2 separate regions of the Homo sapiens genome follow, and region 2 is linked to region 1. Evidence: fine-mapped expression QTL. A gene starts in region 1. The other region holds a variant in brackets. All regions are shown on one strand. Distances are between the middles of the regions.

The links.
Region 2: its variant is fine-mapped to the expression of CDC34 in whole blood (TOPMed, PIP 0.92).

The regions. Positions count from the first base shown.
Region 1 is chr19:526,749-536,154 of GRCh38, reverse strand. It overlaps CDC34 (cell division cycle 34, ubiquitin conjugating enzyme), which reads right to left and starts at 4,395. Exons shown (of 5, transcript NM_004359.2): 1 at 4,047-4,395; 2 at 232-318. The coding sequence starts at 4,223. RefSeq lists silencers at 275-436, 3,561-3,730, 4,151-4,890 and enhancers at 657-706, 917-976, 886-1,461, 1,462-2,038, 3,021-3,180 and 3 more.
Region 2 is chr19:548,103-557,508 of GRCh38, reverse strand. It overlaps GZMM (granzyme M), which reads right to left. Exons shown (of 5, transcript NM_005317.4): 3 at 8,832-8,967; 4 at 8,324-8,587; 5 at 7,587-7,879. The coding sequence ends at 7,718. Among named protein-coding and RNA genes, the nearest start is that of GZMM, 8.8 kb to the right of the region's middle. RefSeq lists a cis regulatory region at 509-1,747. The variant C/G (reference allele first, on the strand shown) is at 4,362.

The DNA of each region.
Region 1 (9,406 bases):
CGAGGACGTGAGGCTCCCAGCGCCCCGGGTCCCGGAAGGACGAGGACATGAGGCTCCCAGCGCCTCGGGTCCCGGAAGGACGAGGACGTGAGGCTCCCAGCGCCCCGGGTCCCGGAGGACGAGGACGTGAGGCTCCCAGCGCCCCGGGTCCCGGAAGGATGAGGACGTGAGGCTCCCAGCACCCTGGGTCCCGGAGGATGAGGACTTGAGGCCCGTGGGGGCCGCGCTCACCTCGTAGATGTTAGGGTGCCACATCTTGGTCAGGAACCGAAAGGCTGGTGGAGAGTATGGGTAGTCGATGGGGAACTTGAGGCGCGCCTGCAGGGGCAGAAGGCAGGTGGCTCAGTCCAGCCCAGCCCCAAGACCTGCCCCAGCTCACAAGGTGCCCAAGGCCATCCCACTCCCAGTGCTGGTGCCTGAGGGTGTGTGTGAGGGACACCGTATCCTGCCCAAGGCAGGGACTCTCACAGGCCTGGGGTCAAGTCCCCAGAAGGCTGCCTGAAGCCTTTTCTGAGTCACCCGAGCTGATCCCAGCTCCTACACAGTCCAGGTGGCCGGGACCCGGCCCAGCACAACTGCTGGGGAACGTGGGCACTGGCTGCCCGCGTGGCTCCAGGCCCGTGGCAGCCCAGGTCAGGCATATGGGACCCAGGCCAGGGGCACCCACCAGCAGACAGAATGGACTGGCAGGGGCTCCAGGCTCCCCTTGGATGGAGCTGAAGCCCAGGACCAGGGCTGCACCTCCAGGGCCTTGGCAGCCAGGGTGTGGGGAGGGTTAGCACAGATGATTGCTCAGTTAGCAAACACTTGTGACACCTGCCCTGGCCCAGGCCGTGGGAGGGGATGAGTCAGTATGGCCGTCTGCCCTCAGGTGTCCGGTCTTGGGGGGTCAGGCAGGCAGACCCATAGGTCACAGAAACCTGGCAGGACTCCTTCCCTGTCAGCATCGCCCCCTGTGGTCACCCAGGCCCTGGAGGTCCAGATCTGCTGGCAAGGACGGCCACAGAGGGAGGCCTGAAGCCACGTGCCAGGTGACAGAGCTGTCTGGCCTGCAGCCTGGGGCGTGATGCCACCCACGGCCCTCCTGGGCCACAGCAGGTAAACAAGGAAGCCTCACTGTTTTCCTGCTGGGCCCCAGTGCCAGACACAGAGGTTGTCTGGGTCAGGGGTCCTGGTGGCACTCAGCACTCCAAGGCACGAGAGCAGCACCCCCAGAGCGATCGTGGTGGAAGCCTGGACAGGGAGGGCACTCAGGGGGTCTTGGATCGTGGGCGAGGTCTGGACAGGGAGGGCACTCAGGGGGTCTTGGATCGTGGGCGAGGTCTGGACAGGGAGGGCACTCGGGGGTCTTGGATCATGGGCGAGGTCTGGACAGGGAGGGCACTCGGGGGTCTTGGATCGTGGGCGAGGTCTGGACAGGGAGGGCACTCGGGGGTCTTGGATCGTGGGCGAGGTCTGGACAGGGAGGGCACTCGGGGGTCTTGGATCGTGGGCGAGGTCTGGACAGGGAGGGCACTCGGGGGTCTTGGATCGTGGGCGAGGTCTGGACAGGGCGGGCACTCGGGGGTCTTGGATCGTGGGCGAGGCCTTGACAGGGAGGGTACTCGGGGGTCTTGGATTGTGGGCGAGGTCTGGACAGGGAGGGCACTCAGGGGGTCTTGGATCGTGGGTGAGGTCTGGACAGGGAGGGCACTCAGGGGGTCTTGGATCGTGGGCGAGGTCTGGACAGGGAGGGTACTCGGGGGTCTTGGATTGTGGGCGAGGCCCCTCCCGGACAGGCAGGGCACTTTGGGGGTCTTGGATCGTGGACGGGCCCCTCCTGGACAGGGAGGGCACGCGGGGTGTCTTGGGGGGTGTCCTCTGTTTGACAGGGAACTCACTGGTGCCCCGTAAGGCAAGTGACTTGGCCGCGGCCACAGAGCAAGGCTGGAACTTCAGTCTCAGAACTGTCCTGCGGTTCCCCAAGACTTCAGGCCCCCCAAGCCTGGTGCTGGGTTTCAGGCGGCAATCCTTGACAACAGCCAAGGCCTCATCTGTACCAAACCCCACCAAGTCCCAATGAGCCTCTTATTTTGGGCACCTCTAAGAATGTCTTTTCCCCGGAGCAAACCCAGGCTCAGAAAAGGAAAGCGCCCTGCCAAGGGCAGACAGCAAGTCGGCTGTGGAGGGCTCTCTCTGGCGGCCCCTGCCCCAGGGCTCACTTTGGCTCCTGAAGGAACAGCAGCTGCAGGCAGTGGCTGGGCAGCAGCGGCCCTGGGCACTCAGCAGGTTCTGTATTTCCACGCTCCCCCAACTCCCTCCCAGGCACAGCGGGAAGGGAGAGTCCTCGTGGGTGGCAGCACCCCCGTCTCAACACTGGCTTCTGAGGACTGACCCTGTGGCAGATGTCTAGAGGCCCCCTCCCTGGGAAATCCGGAAAACCGGATTATCCCCTAATGCTGGCCCAGGAAGCTCTGCCCACAATCCCTGGCAACCGGTCTGGTGGGCACAGCAGCCAGAAACCCCCATCCCCTCCTTCCAGAACAGCAGCCGCCTCACAGGCCTGGCTTCGAGGTGGGGCTGCGGCTCCTCAGCCAGCTGCTCCCCCAAGCAGACAGAAGGGGCTGGCGGAGGAGCTGCTAAAACCATTTGGCAACCTCGAGACCCAAACTCTGTTCCCTGTGTGGGGACGCAGGATTCCAGATGCAGAACCCACGGGCGTCCCACTCTCTGCTCAGGAATCGCCCCCAGCAGACCAGGCTGCTGCCCTCACAGCCGCTGAGCGGGTGCGGTTCAGACACTAATTAGCTCGGAGAGCAGACACATATCGTGCGGGAGGCATCGGTCCCTCGGCCCCACGCCCGCAGCTGGCCGGGGCAGAGCGGGCCGGGCCCTGCAGTGTCGTGTCGTGTCCAGGCTCTTGGCAGGAAGTGACGGTGGGAGGGGGAGATTCCTGGACAGGGTGCTCGTTCCCCACCGCTCACACAGGGCCCCTCGCTTTGTCCCTCTGGCCCCAAGAACGAGGTCCCTGAACGCTAAAAGAAGTCAAAGGTCACGTCTGGATCGTGAGATCAAGAAAACTGCCCTGGTTTTGGCCTGAGTCCTTTTCACATGAGACAGAAACAGCCTCCCCGCTCCCAACAACAACAAAAACATCCAGAAACTGCTTGGAATTAAACCGCCAGAGGGCAGAAGAAACGGCCCAGAACTCGGGGTTTGGGTCCCAAGAAGCCACCTGTTCAGTGGACTCTGAGAAAGGCCAAGACCAGCTGGGATGAGCGAGCCCGGAGCTTCTGAGGTCGGGGTCCGGGACGCGGGCCCGAGCCGGGAGGCCTGGAGAGAGCTGCAGGGAGCAGGTGGGAGGCACGCCCCTACTTCGGCCTTCCCGAGGGCGCAGGTTACATAAAGCAGGGGATGGAGCCCAGGGCGCCTGGCCGGCTGCTACTGGCAAGGGTGGCCGCTTTCCAGGCGGGTCCTGGCTGCCAAGGCTCATCCGGGCCTTTGTTGGAGACTGAGCGAGTGGCCGCGCCAGCCACCCCCAGGCTGGCCTCGCTCCCCCGCTCACGGGCCCAGCTCCCCAACAATAGCAGCTACGGGGTCTGGGGGGGCCTCTTTGTCTCCTCCGGGGAGGGCGGGGAGGGCAGCTGAAAGGCCGGCGCGGCCTGGGCTCCGCTCCCTCTTTCTCGCAGGGGCGGAGGGGGAGGCAGCCGGGGTCCAGCCCCCGCCAAGGAGGAGGTGGGCAAGAGCCCCACGCCCAGATGCTACAGGGAGGGCCCCCGGCCACCCCTCCGGGGGCCAAGAGCCTAACAGGGGACCGGACGATGCCTTGAAGGGAACTGGGGATTTTCGAGGACTGCAGCAGAGGCTGAAGGTCCCCGAGACGGTCCGAGGAGGGGGCCGGGCAGAGCTGGGTGGGGGAACGTGGCCATAGAAGGGAAACGAGCCCAAGCCAGGAGGCTTCGGGGCCCGCCCAGCAACAGCGCTAGGACCGCGGGGCAGGGAGCTGGTTCCCGGCGCCCGAGGTCGCTCGTGGGCTCCGGGACCCGGGCGGGGGTCGCCGCGCTCACCTTGAAGTAGCCGCCCTCGTAGTAGGTGTTGGGGGGCCCGAAGATGGCCACCTCCCAGTTGTATAGATCGCCCTCGTCCACCAGTGTCACGCGGAATCCCTCGACCGGCTCTTCCTGCAGCCCCTTGAGCTCCAGCAGCAGCGCCTTCTGCGAGCTGGGCACTAGCGGCCGAGCCATGGCGGCGGCGGAGGGGCCCGGGGTCGGAGCAGCGCGGGGCCGCGCGACCACCGCGAGTTCGCGAGACGGGCCGGGCCGCGCACCGTCCGGGGGGGAGCCACCGGGGCCGCCGCCTGCCTCCTCCTCTGCGCCGCCGCCGCCGCCCGGGGACCCCGAGCGCTCCAGCAGCTCTGGCGCCGCCGCCCCACCGGCGCTTGCCTTGGCCGGGCCCGCGCGCCCCGCCCCCCGCTGCGCCTGCGCGCACCGCCTGGCCCCGACTGCGCCTGCGCTCCGCGGCCAGGTCCGACTTGCGCCTGCGCGCCCGGCCGCAGGGGACGCCGGGAGGTGGAGTCCCGGCCCCGGTCCCGCCTACGGCGCCGAGCGCCTCCGCCGGGAGGGAGGGTTCGAGCGCGCAGCCCCGGGCTCTTCCGATCCCCGAGGCCGCCGCCGTCGCCCCCTGCTCGACCAGCACCGCGGACGCTGTGCGCAAGGAGGCGGGCAGGGCTGCTCTGCGCCGTCACCGGCCCGGTCCCCCGGCTTTGGGGTTGTTTTGTGACGTGCCGGCGCGGGGCGGGGCCGCGGGCGGTGAACGGGGCGCGGCGCGGGGTCCTGACCGGGACCGGAGGGGCAGGGCCGGTCCATCCGGCGCGACCCCGCGTCCCCGTCTCCGTTTCCCCGTCTGTGCAGGGGACGGGCGCGAAGTCTGTCCTAGGGTCGCGCTGGCCACGCGGAAGGGAGGAAGGGGCGGGAGCGAGGCGGGATCCGCAGACCTGGCTTCCAGGCGCGGCGCTGCCTCGGTTCCCCCGACAGCGGGAGCTCTGAGAAGTGGGCGAGGTCGGGGAGGGCTCTGAGGGGTGGGAGGGGCGAGGGCTTCCCTGGTCCCCGTTGAAGTCACCATGTGGTGTGAGGCGAGTGCAGGCGCTGGAGCCATCAGAGGTTGGCAAGGTGCTCCTGCCCCCCAGAGAAACTGGGAAAGAGGCCTACGCCGGCCAGCATCGGCTCAGCACCTGACCCGGGAGAGGCGCCAGCCCCACGGAGCCCCCACCCCAAGCTGAGCCCGAGCCTGGCTGTGCCCTCCTCCCAGCCTGACCTTTGTCCTACCCGAGTCTTTTTTTTTTTTTTTTTTTTAAATGAGACAGAGTCTCGTTCTGTGGCCCAGGCTGGAGTGCAGTGGCACAATCTCACTGCAACCTCCGCCTCCCGGGTTCAAGCTAGTGTCCGCCTCAGCCTCCCGAGTAGCTGAGATTACAGGTGCCCGCCACCACGTCCGGCTAATTTTGTATTTTAAGTAGAGATGGGGTTTCACCATGTTGGCCAGGCTGGTCTCGAACCCCTGACCTCAAGTGTGTTGTTAGGTTTTGAAAGGAAGGGGAGGATGCAGTTTGGACTAATAAAGGGATCCGTCTGCGTCGGCCTCCCAAATGCTGGGATTATAGGCATGAGCCACCGCGCCCAGCCCACCTGAGTCTTGACCCCAGCTGATTCCGGGCATCACTGTGACCCCACCTGACTTCTGACCTGGCTCAGTGGCTGCCCAGACACCCACATGCTCCTTGCTGTGAAGCTTGGTCGGGAGAACTGGCCGTGGTGAGGACGGGGCAGCCCAGCCTCCCCTGAGTCGTGCCCGTGACGGGTGGCCCTGCCCTCGGACTGTGCCAGTGGCATTGTTGCTATGCCCTGGGTACACACAGCTGCATCAACATACAGGCCGGGCACGGTGGCTCACGCCTGTGATCCCAACACTTTGGGGGGCCGAGGCGGGCGGATCACAATGTCAGGAGATCGAGACCATTGTGGCTAATATGGTGAAACCCCGTCTCTACTAAAAATACAAAAAATTATCTGGGCGTGGTGGCGGGCGCCCGTAGTCCCAGCTACTCGGGAGGCTGAGGCAGGAGAATGGCGTGAGCCCGGGAGGCGGAGCTTGCAGTGAGTCTAGATAGCGCCACTGCGCTCCAGCCTGGGCGACAGAGACTCCGTCTCAAAAAAAAAAAAAACCAAAAACAAAAACCAGTCTGGGACCAGGGCCACTCTGTCCCGCAGGTGCCCCAACACCTGGCCCCGGCTTCATGAGTCTGGTCCCCGGAAGAGGACCAGCAGGCAAACCTGTCTGGGGAAAGGAAAACAGCATCAGGAGTGGAGAGGGAGGGAGGGATCCAAGAAAGAGCTCTGGGCCGAGCGGTCACTTCCAGAGCTGTCCAGGGCCGAGGCCGAGGCGTCCTCACCCGTAAGGGCCTCTGGGCCTCCTCCCTCAGGCCCCTCTGCCCGGCACCCTGGGGGCCTGGAGTAAAAGGAGGGTCTCGGGACTAGTGGGGCCTTCTGGCTGTGGCCCCTTCACCAAGGTTCCCAGGGTTTTGTGAGCCTCAGTCTCTTCCGTGCCACAGGTCGTGGATATATTGCCAGCATCATGGAGCCGGCAGGCAGCAGCTCATGGGTAAATTAATGCTAATTAGAATTAACCACGATTCCTTCTCTAAGGGCTCCCAAGATCTCTCTTCTTCCGTACACCCACATCCCAGGAAGCACTGTGTGGGTGAGGGAGGTTTTCTTTCTCTCGCTTTTTTTTTTTTTTTTTTTTTTTGAGAAGGAGTCTTGCTCTGTCGCCCAGGCTGGAGTGCAGTGGCACGATCTTGGCTCCCTGCAACCTCCACCTCCCGGGTTCAAGTGATTCTCCTGCCTCAGCCTCCTGAGTAGCTGGGACTACAGACGCATGCCACCACGCCCTGCTAATTTTTTGTATTTTTAGTAGAGAAGCGGTTTCACCGTGTTAGCCAGGATGGTCTTGATCTCCTGACTTCGTGATCCGCCCGCCTCGGCCTCCCAAAGTGTTGGGATTACAGGCGTGAGCCACCGCGCCCGGCCTGGGTTGGGGAGATTTTCAAGCCCCTCCAGCTGGTCCCACAGGGCCCCGACCCCCAGGGAGGCTCAGGCTCACAGCACCCGGGAGCGGTGGACACCAGGGGCTTCCACCTGCCTGCTTGGGGGCTCCCTACTCTGTGGGAACGGGTTCGAATTGGACTGACGCAAGCCCTGGCTGCAGGGAGGGGCCATCCCATCAGTTCCCAGGGCCCCCACCCTGGGCTGCAATGATTGGTTCAGGAACAAGCATGTGACTCCTGACGTCCAATGAGATTCAGCTCTGGGACATTTCTCTGGGATCACAGTGCTGGGGTGGCTGAGCTGGAAGGACCTGGGGCTGGAGTTACGGGGTCATGGTGTCACCACGGGGCCTCCGAACAAAGGCGGCATCACAGGAAAGCCGAGCCGGCTGATGAGAGGGGAAACGTTGATAATCCTATTAGTGATCCTGCATCATGCTGTTACCTGACCTCCCCTGGATGTTCCAATGATGCAAGCTCATGAATTCTTGCCTCTTAGTTCGTTTGTGTTGAGATGGAGTCTCTCTGTGTCACCCAAGCTGGAGTCCAGTGGCGCAATCTCAGCTCATTGCAACCTCTGCCTCCCAGGCTTAAGCAATCCTCCCACCTGTCTCCGAAGTAGCTAGGATCACAAGCGTGCACTGTCACACCCAGCTAATTTTTGAATTTTTAGTAGAGATGGGGTTTTACCATGTTGGCCAGGCTGGTCTCGATCTCTCAGCCTCAAGTGATCCTCCTGCCTTGGCCTCTTAAAGTACTGGAATTACAGGCGTGAGCCACCACGCCCAGCCTTTTTAGTTTATTTTCCTTTCCTCCCTCCCTGCCCCCGTTCCTGTTGCTCAGGCTGGCCTTGAACTCCTGGGCTCAAACAGTCCTCCCACCTCAGCCTCCCAGGTAGCTGGGACCACACGTGCACACCACCACAACCAGGTTAAATTCCTTCTTCGTGCCGGGCGCCGTGGCTCACACCTGTAATCCCAGCACTTTGGGAGGCCGAGGAGGGTGGATCACCTGAGGTCAGGAGTTCCAGACCAGCCTGACCAACATGGAGAAACCCTGTCTCTACTAAAAATACAAAATTAGCCGGGCGTGGTGGCACATGCCTATAATTCCAGCTGCTCGGGAGGGTGAGGCCCAAGAATCGCTTGAACCTGGGAGGCGGAGGTTGTGGTGAGTCAAGATCACGCCATTGCACTCCAGCCTGGGCAACAAGAGTGAAACTCCATCTCAAAAATAAATAAATAAGTAAAAATAAATTCCTTCTTCGTTAATTAAGCCAGTTTGAGTTAGGTTTTCCATCACATGGCAGAGAAGAACCTTAAATTCAAATCTAGTTTCTGCCACGACCTTGGAAATATCGCTCAAACATTAAACCCAGTCTCAGGTTTATTTAATTAATTTATTTATTTAATTATTTTTTTTTTGAGATGGCGTCTTGCTCTGTCACCCAGGCTGGAGCGCAGTGGCTCCATCTCTTCTCACTGCATCCTTTGCTTCCCGGGTTCAAGTGATCCTCCTGCCTCAGCCTCCCAAGTGGGTGACTTGTGCCACCATGCCAGCTAATTTTTATATTTTTAGTAGAGATGGGGTTTCACCATGTTGGCCAGGCTGGTCTGGAACTCCTGACCTCATGTGATCCACCCTCCTTGGCCTCCCAAAGTGCTGGGATTACAGACATGAGCCACCGTGCCTGGCCTATGAGTTTCAGTTTTTTATTTTATTTTATTATTTTATTTTGAGACAGAGTCTCACTCTGTTGCCCAGGCTGGAGTGCAGTGACACGATCTTGGCTCATTGCAATCTCTGCCTCCTGGGTTCAAGCAATTCTCCTGCCTCAGCCTCCCGAGTAGCTGGGATTACAGGTGCGCCACCATACTCGGCTAATTTTTGTAGTTTTAGTAGTGACGGGGTTTCGCCATGTTGGCCAGGCTGGTCTCGAACTCCTGACCTCAGGTGATCCGCCTGCCTCGGCCTCTGAAACTGCTGGGATGACAGGCATGAGCCACCGCGCCCAGCCCGACTTTCAGTTTTTTAATTTGAAAGTGGGTTAGATAAGATAGTTGTACAAAGGTCTTCCTGTGGAGCCCAAGATGTCACTGAGACTCTTACACGATGGCATCTTGCTGCTCTCATGCCTTGTAGGGAAGAAAGACAGTTCTCAGAAGGCAGAGGGGTGCATGTGGGAGGATATGGTCCTCAGGGGAGAGGGACAGGGAGCCAGGACACAGCAGCTGTGGGGCGTTGGGCAACATGGCCAGACCTCGTCTCCACAAAAAAAAAAAAAAAAAAAAAAAAAAAAAAAAAAAAATGTTTCTTAAGCAGCCA
Region 2 (9,406 bases), 21 kb before region 1:
AGGCTGAGGCAGGAGAATTGCTTGAACCCAGGAGGCAGAGGTTGCAGTGAGCTGAGATTGCGCCACTGCACTCCAGCCTGGGTGACAGAGCGAGACTGTCTCAAAAAAAAAAATTCGAGAAGGGCCGTATGGCTGAAAATGTCTCTTGAATCAAATTCCCCTGCCCCGACCTCAGCCTTTGTGGACCTTTCTGTTTGGGGTCCCGGGGCCCCCACTTTGTCAGCGACCATCGTGCCTCTGCGCTTTGTTCTGGGACCGAGCCTGGGCACCGGCCTCTCCACAGGCTCATCCAGCTGCCTGAGAATCCTGGGGCCCCACGCTCAGCAAGGATGAGGACAGCAGCTTCCCCACCTCAGGGCGTACGTGGGCATCAGATGAGGCCTTCTGGCATTTACCACGGGACGACAAGCGTCTGCGTCTTCCCAGGGAGAACGGTGCCCCCCAAAACTCACGCCCACCCAGAACCTCAGAATGTGGCCTTATTTGGCAGAGGTAGTTAGGATAAAGTTGTAAGGGTGGCCCTGAGGCAATGGCTGGCATCCTCATCAGAAGAGGGACATTTGGACTGAGACATGGGGAGACGTCCCTGCGGGGACAGAGGCAGAGACTGCAGCAATGTGGACACAAGCCAAGGACGCCTGGCGCCCCCGGAGCTGGAGAAGGCAGGAGGACTCCTCCGTGGGGCCTCTCAGAGAGCGGCGCCTGCCCACACCTTGACCTCAGACTCCGGGCCCCAGGACGGGGAGGGGCTGCCTTCTGTTGTTTAAGTCACCCAGCATGTGGTCCCACGTCACTGTCAAGCTCCCGGGTGACACCTGTCCAGTTTAAACCACCTGAGACCAGAGCTCTGCCCACCGGCCACCCGGAGATGCTCACTCGGCTGTTCCCTTTTACACCAGGAGGAACCAGCGAGGGCTGGCAGGGCGCAGTGGCTCACACCTGTCATCCCAGCGCTTTGGGAGGTCGAGGCGGGAGGATCACTTGAGCCTAGGACTTTGAGACTCCATTAAGCAACATACTGAGACCCCATCTCGGCAAAATTACAAACATTAGCCAGGCGTGGTGGTGCACACGTGTAGCCCCATCTCCTCAGGAGGCTGAGGGAAGGGGATTGCTTGAGCCCAGCAGTTTGAGGCTGCAGTGAGCTAGGATTGCACCACTGCGCTGCAGCCTGGGTGACCCTGTCTCAAAAAAAAAAAACCACGAAAACACAGACGGAGGGGTGGAGGCTTCCAGGGCACTGCGTGTCCCACACAGGGTGTCAGCCTCCTGCTGGTGGCTGGTTCTGTGTCTCTAAGTCCCCAGTCACTCACCGGGGCTGGGGTGGGGACATCTCAGCACAGCAGGAGGGAACCACTGATGAGGCACGTCCGGGCTCAGAGATTAGCTCTCTCCCCGGGGCGTGGCTCCAGCTCACCAAACACCAGCCTGGCCTGGCCTCCACTGATCTCTGTCCAGTTGGAGTCACCCCAGGACCCAGTGGGTGGGGTGGGTGGGGTGGGGCGGTGCCCTGTGACCTCTGGAGGAGGCTGGAGAGGAAGCTCAACCCTTGCCTCTGAGCATTTTTTTGTTTGTTTTTTTGAGATGGAGTTTTTTGCTCTTGTCGCCCAGGCTGGAGTGCAGTGGCGCAATCTTGGCTCACTGCAACCTCCGCCTCCCGGGTTCAAGCGATTCTCCTGCCTCAGCCTCCCCAGTAGCTGGGATTACAGGCATGCGCCACCACGCCCGGCTAACATTGTATTTTTAGTAGAGACGGGGTTTCTCTGTGTTGGCCAGGCTGATCTGGAACTCCCGACCTCAGGTGATCCGCCCGCCTCGGCCTCCCAAAATGCTGGGATGACAGGTGTGAGCCACCATGCACGGCCGCCTCTGAGCATTTCTGACGGGTCCACCCCACTGGGCTGGATGCTTCCTCCTTCCTAGCCTCCCTGCCTCTACATCAGGGTCTCCCTTGAGGATGTCAAGGAATAAGGAAAATCGCAGCTTCCGCTGGGTACGGTGGCTTACACCTGTCATCCCAGCACTTTGGGAGGCCGAAGCGGGTGGATCACCTGAGGTCAGGAGTTCGAGACCAGCCTGACCAACATGGTGAAACCCCATCTCTACTGAAAATACAAAAATTAGCCGGGCGTGGTGGTGGGTGCCTGTAATCTCACCTACTCGGGAGGCTGAGGCAGGAGAATCACTTGAACCCGGGAGGAGGAGGTTGCAGTGAGCCGAGATTGCGCCACTGCACTCCAGCCTGGAAACAGAGACTCCGTCTCAAAAAAAAAAGCAAACAACAACAACAAAAAAAAAAAAAACAAAAAAAAAAACACCACAGCTTCTTTTAAGCACGTGCAGGGGCCGTGTGACTGTGGGACGTGACAAGGAGCTTCTGTCCAAGTTTCCGTGCGGGAAAGAAACACAAACGTCTGCGAAGTTCACAGCAGCCCAGGTCACGGCAGCCAAAGGTGGAAACAGCTCACCCATCCCTCGAGGGCAGTGAGTGGACAGAGGCAACGTGGTCCAGCCGTACCACGGAAGGACACCCCACCCCAAAATAACAGCACCAGGACGTGCCACCCCAAAGTGTACTTGTCCTGCGTCGTTCGAGCTGGTGACTCCCAGAAACCGCAGGCTCAGGACTAGCTCTGGACAAGTGCTCTTTTGTAAAATAAGTTCACGTCCACGAAGGACATCCACGCTGGCAACACACCTGCACCAGGAAGAGGGAGAGGGCTGCCCCGGGCAGCTTTCATTGCCAAGAGGCCTGGCTTTCTTTTTATCTTTTCTTTATTTGTTTTTATTTTTAATTTTAATTTTTTTGTATTTTTAGTAGAGACGGGGTTTCACCATGTTGGCCAGGCTGGTCTCGAACTCCTGGGCTCAAGTGATCTACCAGCCTTGGCCTCCAAAAGTGCTGGGATTACAGGCGTGAGCCACCGTGCCTGGCCTTTTTATCCTTTTTTTTTTTTAAAAAAAAATGAACACATGCCGGGCGCGGTGGCTCACGCCTGTAATCCCAGCACCTTGGGAGGCTGAGGCGGGCGGATCACGACATCAGGAGCTTGAGACCAGCGTGGCCAACATGGCGAAACCCCGTCTCTACTAAAAATACAAACAGTAGCCGGGCGTGGTGGCGGGTGCCTGTAATCCCAGCTACTCGGGAGGCTGAGGCAGGGGAATCGCTTGAATCTGGGAGGCGGAGGTTGCGGTGAGCCGAGATCGTGCCACTGCACTCCAACCTGGGCAACAAGAGCAAAATACTCTGTCTCAAAAAAAAAAAGAACACATAATAATTGTACATATTCATGGGGTACATAGTGACGTTTCAATACATACAATGTGTGCTGATCAGACATTAACATAGCTAGAGTTGCAAACATTTATCATTTTTTAAAAAATTTTTTATTTATGGTTTTTTTGTTTTTTTTTTTCTGAGACGGAGTCTCGCTCTTGTCGCCCAGGCTAGAGTGCAGTGGTGTGATCTCAGCTCCCTGCAACCTCCCTTTCCCGGCTTGAAGTGATTCTCCTGCCTCAGCCTCCCAAGTAGCTGGGATTATAGGTGCCCACCACCATGCCCAGCTAATTTTTTTTGTAATTTTCGTAGAGACAGGGTTTCACCATGTTGGCCAGGCCGATCTTGAACTCCTGACCTCGTGATCCGCCCGCCTCAGCCTCCCGATGTGCTGGGATTACCGGCGCGAGCCACCATGCCTGGCCATGAATGAACAATTTAAAAACCCAAAGGGGCTGGGCGTGGTGCCTCACCCCTGTCATCCCAGTACTTTGGGAGACCAAGGCTGGCGGATCATGAGGTCAGGAGTTCAAGACCAGCCTGGCCAATCTGGTGAAACCCCGTCTCTACTAAAAATACAAAAATTAGCCGGGCGTGGTGGCGCGTGCCTATAGTCCCAGCTACTCGGGAGGTTGAGGCAGGAGGATTGCTTGAACCCAGGAGGCGGAGGTTGCAGTGAGCCGAGATTGCACCACTGCACTCCAGCCTGGGCGACAGAGCGAGACTCCGTGTCAAAACAAAAACAAAAACAAAAAACAAAAAAAGAACCCAAACAGGCAGGGCCCATCTCTGGGGTTAGAGACTGGACTTGGGGCGGGGCGCAGTGGCTCATGCCTGTAATCCCAGCACTTTGGGAGGCCGAGGTGGGTGGATCACGAGGTCAGGAGATCGAGACCATCCTGGCTAACACCGTGAAACCCCGTCTCTACTAAAAATATTTAAAAAATTAGCCAGGCGTGGTGGCGGGCGCCTGTAGTCCCAGCTACTGGGGAGGCTGAGGCAGGAGAATGGCGTGAACCCAGGAGGTGGAGCTTGCAGTGAGCCGAGATTGCACCACTGCACTCCAGCCTGGGGGACAGAG[C/G]GAGACTCGAATCTCAAAAAAAAAAAAAAGAGACTGGACTTGGGTACTTGGCTAAGGAGGGGCTTCGGGGCAGGGGGTTGTGTCTGGACCCAGGTGCCGGGAACAGGGGCGTGCCTGGTTTGTGAGTTATGAGGCTCTTCACTTGTGACCTGAGAACCTTCCACTGCCAATGATGCCATAAAAAGTTAAAGATTAGGCCGGGCGCGGTGGCTCACACCTGTAATCCTTTAGGAGGCTGAGGTGGGAGGATTGCTGGAGCCCAGGAGTCTCTAAAAAAATAACATAAAAAAATTAAAAAAGTTAAAGATTAAAAATGCACTTGCCTCTCCCAAAAACACTGTGACTCCAGTCCAATCGAGAGAAAAACATGAGATAGCTGGCGGGTGCAGTGGTCCACACCCGTAATCTACATAAATCCCGTCCAGCCGGCCTCCAGACACGGAGTTCTGAGAAACGGTCGGAGCCTGGGGGTGCCGAGGAGAGGCTGCGGCGAAACGGCAGGTTCGGTCCCGGGTGGGACCCTGTGCAGGAAGAGACATTAGGGGAAACTGAGGAAATCCGAGCCAAGAGTAGGTCCTTAGTAGTTAATCACGCATTCATGTGAGTTCGTCAGCCGTGACTCCTGCTGACTGGAGAGGGGAGCGGCCAGGAGCCTGGGGGCGGGGACGCGGGGGACCCTGTGGATACAGCCGCCACACATCTCCTGCAGACCAAAAATGGTTTTAAAAATTAAGTCTATTACAACACTAACCCGGCCGGGCACAGTGGCTCATACCTGTAATCCCAGCACTTTGGGAAGCCGAGGCGGGTGGATTATTTGAGGTCAGGAGTTCGAGACCAGCCTGACCAATATGGTGAAACCCCGTCTCTAGTAAAAATCCAAAAAAATTAGCTGGGCTTGGTGGTGGACCCCTATGATTCCAGCTACTTGGGAGGCTGAGGCTGCACTCCAGCCTGGGCAACAGAGTGGGAACTGTCTAAAAATAAAATAAAATAATAAAAAACCATTAACGTGGGCACAGTGGCTCATGCCTGTAATCCCAGCACTTTGGGAGGGCGAGGTGGGCGGGTCACCTGAGGTCAGGAGTTCAAGACCAGCCTGGTCAACGTGGTGAAACCTGTGTTTCTATTAGTCTCTACTAAAAATACAAAAAAAGTTAGCTGGGCGTGGTGGTGCACGTCTGTGATCCCTCAGCTACTCAGGTGGCTGAGACACAAGCATCGCTTGAACCTGAGATGGCTTGCAGTGAGCCGAGATCGTGCCACTGCACTCCAGCCCGGGTGACGCACTGAGACTCCATCAGAAGAAAAGAAAGGAAAATAAAAGAAAAAAAGAAAAGAAAAGAAAGAAAGAAAGAAAGAAAGAGAGGAGGGGAGGAGAGGGGAGGGGAGGAGAGGGGAGGGGAGGGGAAGGGGAGACGGGGAAGAAAGGAAAGAAAGGAAAGAAAGAAAGAGAGAGGAGGGGAGGGGAGGGGAGAGAAGGGGAAGGGAGGGAAAGAGAAGAAGGGGAAGGGAGGGAAAGAGAAGAAGGGGAAGAAAGGGAAGAAAGAAAAGAAAAGAAAGAAAGAGTTGGTAGTGAAATTAAAAGATTCTGCAGGAAAACAGCGCGGCGCTGAAACAGAGTCACTGAACAGCCCGAGATGCCACTCCCACGGGTCTAATCTGGAGGGAGGAAGGAGCAGGTAGGTCCACACGAAAACGCACACAGGCGGCTCCCAGCAAAGCTTCAGACGGACGGACGCAGACGAAGCCGCCCAGATGTGCACCCAGGGACGCACCCACAAACGCAGCGAGGCCCCCCTCGAGCTGGAGCTCGACCCCCCGGAGCAGGAGCACGGCTCGGACCCAGCCAGCGCGCGGGTGCAGCTTGAGGACGTCACGCTCAGCGGGAGACGCCAGACACAGAAGGCCACGCAGCGTGATCCCCTGTCCATGAAATGTCAGCACAGGCCCATCCAGAGACAGGGAGGGGATGTGAGGGCACCGGGGCTGGGGTGGGGACGGGGAGTGACGGCCGATGGGGACGAGCCTCCTTTTGGGGTGCTGGGGTGACAGTGGGGACAGAGTCTATTTTCGGGGTGCTGGAATGACAATGGGGGTGGGGCTTCCTTTTGGGGTGCTGGGGTGATAGAGATGGGGCCTGTTTTCGGGCTGCTGGGGTGACAGTGGGGACAGGCCTGTTTTCGGGCTGCTGGGATGACAGTGGGGACGGGCCTGTTTTCGGGGTGCTGGGGTGACAGTGGGGACAGGGCTGTTTTCGGGGTGCTGGGGTGACAGTGGGGACAGGCCTGTTTTCGGGGTGCTGGGGTGACAGGGGGACAGGCCTGTTTTCGGGGTGCTGGGGTGACAGGCCTGTTTTCGGGGTGCTGGGGTGACAGTGGGGACGGGCCTGTTTTCGGGGTGCTGGGGTGACAGTGGGGACAGGCCTGTTTTCGGGGTGCTGGGGTGACAGTGGGGACAGGGCTGTTTTCGGGGTGCTGGGGTGACAGGACTGTTTTCAGGGTGCTGGGGTGACAGGGGACAGGCCTGTTTTCGGGGTGCTGGGGTGACTGGGGACGGGCCTGTTTTCGGGGTGCTGGGGTGACTGGGGACGGGCCTGTTTTCGGGGTGCTGGGGTGACTGGGGACGGGCCTGTTTTCGGGGTGCTGGGGTGACTGGGGACGGGCCTGTTTTCGGGGTGCTGGGGTGACATGTCACGGTGGTGGTTGCCCAGCTCTGTGCAGGTACCAAAGGCCCCTGAATCGCAGTTTACAGGGAGACTCATCTGCTATGTGAGTTGTAACTTGATAAAAGCTGTTACTAAAAAAGAAGATCCTGGGATGCTGTTCAAGGCCCAGCCCCAGGAGCCACGCGGGGAGGACGGCCGCCCACCCCTGCCAGCCTGCAGACCCGGCCACCGCTCCAGTCCTGGCCAACGCCGCCCCCTCCTGGGAGAAGCCTTGGGATCCACAACCTCCCTTTTTAAAACAGGGAAGGGCCGGGCGCGGTGGCTCACGCCTGTAATCCCAGCACTTTGGGAGGCCGAGGTGGGCAGATCACAAGGTCAAGAGTTGGAGACCAGCCTGACAAACATGGAGAAACCCCTTCTCTACTAAAAATACCAAAAGTTAGCCTGGCGTGGTGGCGGGCGCCTGTAGACCCAGTTACTCGGGAGGCTGAGGGAAACAGGTTTGTCGGAAGCCCCACAGCCAGCATGGACAGAGGTGGGCTGGGACTCAGGCGGGCTCTGAGCGTTTCTTCATTATGATTTATTGGTCCCTCCCTGTCCCTCCCACCCGTCCTCACCCACCCCACTGCACCCCTGGAGGGGAAGGGTCCTGTGGAGACAGCGAGGGGGTCCCCATCACCCCAGGGCATCAGGCCGATCGGCCGGTGACCTTCCTGATCCAGGACACGTAAGGCGCCACAGCGGTGGCCACGGGAGGCTTGAAGATGTCAGTGCAGACCCTGGAGCTGAAGGACAGGACTCTGGCCAACACCCGGCCTTTGCCACACACCAGGGGCCCGCCCGAGTCACCCTGCAGGGACGACACACCGCAGCTCAGCCTCTGCACCTGCTGAGGGGACGAGGGGAGCAGGGCCCGCCGAGGGGAGCAGGGCCAGGCCTGTTATCCCCAGGCTCAAGGAGACACAGGGGCTGCTCCCGGCCCACGCGTGTCCCCTCCCCATCTCCCGCTGGCCCTGTGAACCCTGCTCCTTCTTCCCCCGCCGGACCGTCTTGGCTGGAGCAGAAGTCACAGCTCTGCCGCTTCCCGGCTGTGTGGTCTTGCGCAGGTTGCTAAACCTGTCTGAGCCTCAGTTTCTGCACCTGAGAAACGGGACCCCTGCCAGTGCTTCCCCGCCCCCCAGCCCCTGACAGGACTCCCCAGAGAACGGGAGAGCCAGGAACCTGCCCGGCGGCTGCCCTGGCCCCGGCCCTCCCGCCAGCCTCATTCCCCCAGCCCCACCCGGGCGCCCCTCACCTTGCAGGGAGCCTGGTCCTTGGAGTCGGCCGCCAGGCAGACCATGCTGGGGGAGAGGCTGCCGTTCCAGAAGCGGCTGTTGTTACACATGCGGGTGTCCAGCACTTGGAGGTCCAGCTCCCGCAGCACCCGGGACAGGCGCCCGCCCTGGTGGGTCAGCCCCCAGCCGGCCATGCTGCACCGAGTCCCTGCTGCCACCACCTGGCGCTTACTGGGCAGGGCCAACGGCCGGATGGTCCGGCTGGGCTTCACTTTCCCGTCCAGCTACGAGTGACAGGAAGGGGCAGGTGAGCAGGGGGAGGGGGTGAGAGTGCGGGGGCGGGGGGCGGCAGCGGGGGGAGGGGTGGCAGTGGGGGGAGGGTGGGCAATGGGGGAGGGGGCAGTAGTGCGGGGGGAGGGGCAGCAGTGCGGGGGGAGGGTCGGCAGCGGGGGGAGGGCGCAGTGGGGGTGAGGGGCACCCGTGGGGGACAGGAGGGTGCCCAGTTCTCCCTGTCCCGTCCCTGCACACCTGAAGCAGCGCGAGGTCGTTCTCCAGGGCAGGGACGGGCTTGTAGCGAGGGTGCTGGATGGCTGCCTTGATGTGGAAGGTGAGACCGGGGCTGTCCAGGGTGTGGAGCCCCAGCACCAGCCTCAGCTGGGCCATCCTGGGGACAGAGGGAATCAGGGTGCTGCGGCCTGGCCCGGCGTGGACGACCCGCCACATGCAGTCCCGGCCCCCACTGTGCCCGTTGTCCATGGCCATCACTCACAGCCGCTGCCCCTCACAGGCCTTGGCTTGGCCAGTCCTTCCCTGTGTCTTTGCAACCCACCTCCTCCAGGAAGCCCTCCCTGCTCTCACCCCTGCCCCAGACTTCTGCCCGGCCCTGGCCCCAGGCAAGGGCTGTGTGTCCAAAAATCCAACCCCAAGCCTACAGCTTCACGAAAACCAGCCCTGGGAATTCCCTTCACTTGGGGCCCCAGGCTCAACCACAGTGATTTGTACAGGGGTTGACACATGCCAATCCTCCTAAGTGTGCCCCAACTTTAGAGAGCCAAGCCCTCTTTCCATGGGACTGAGGAGGGTCAATCTTTCCACCTTGTGAG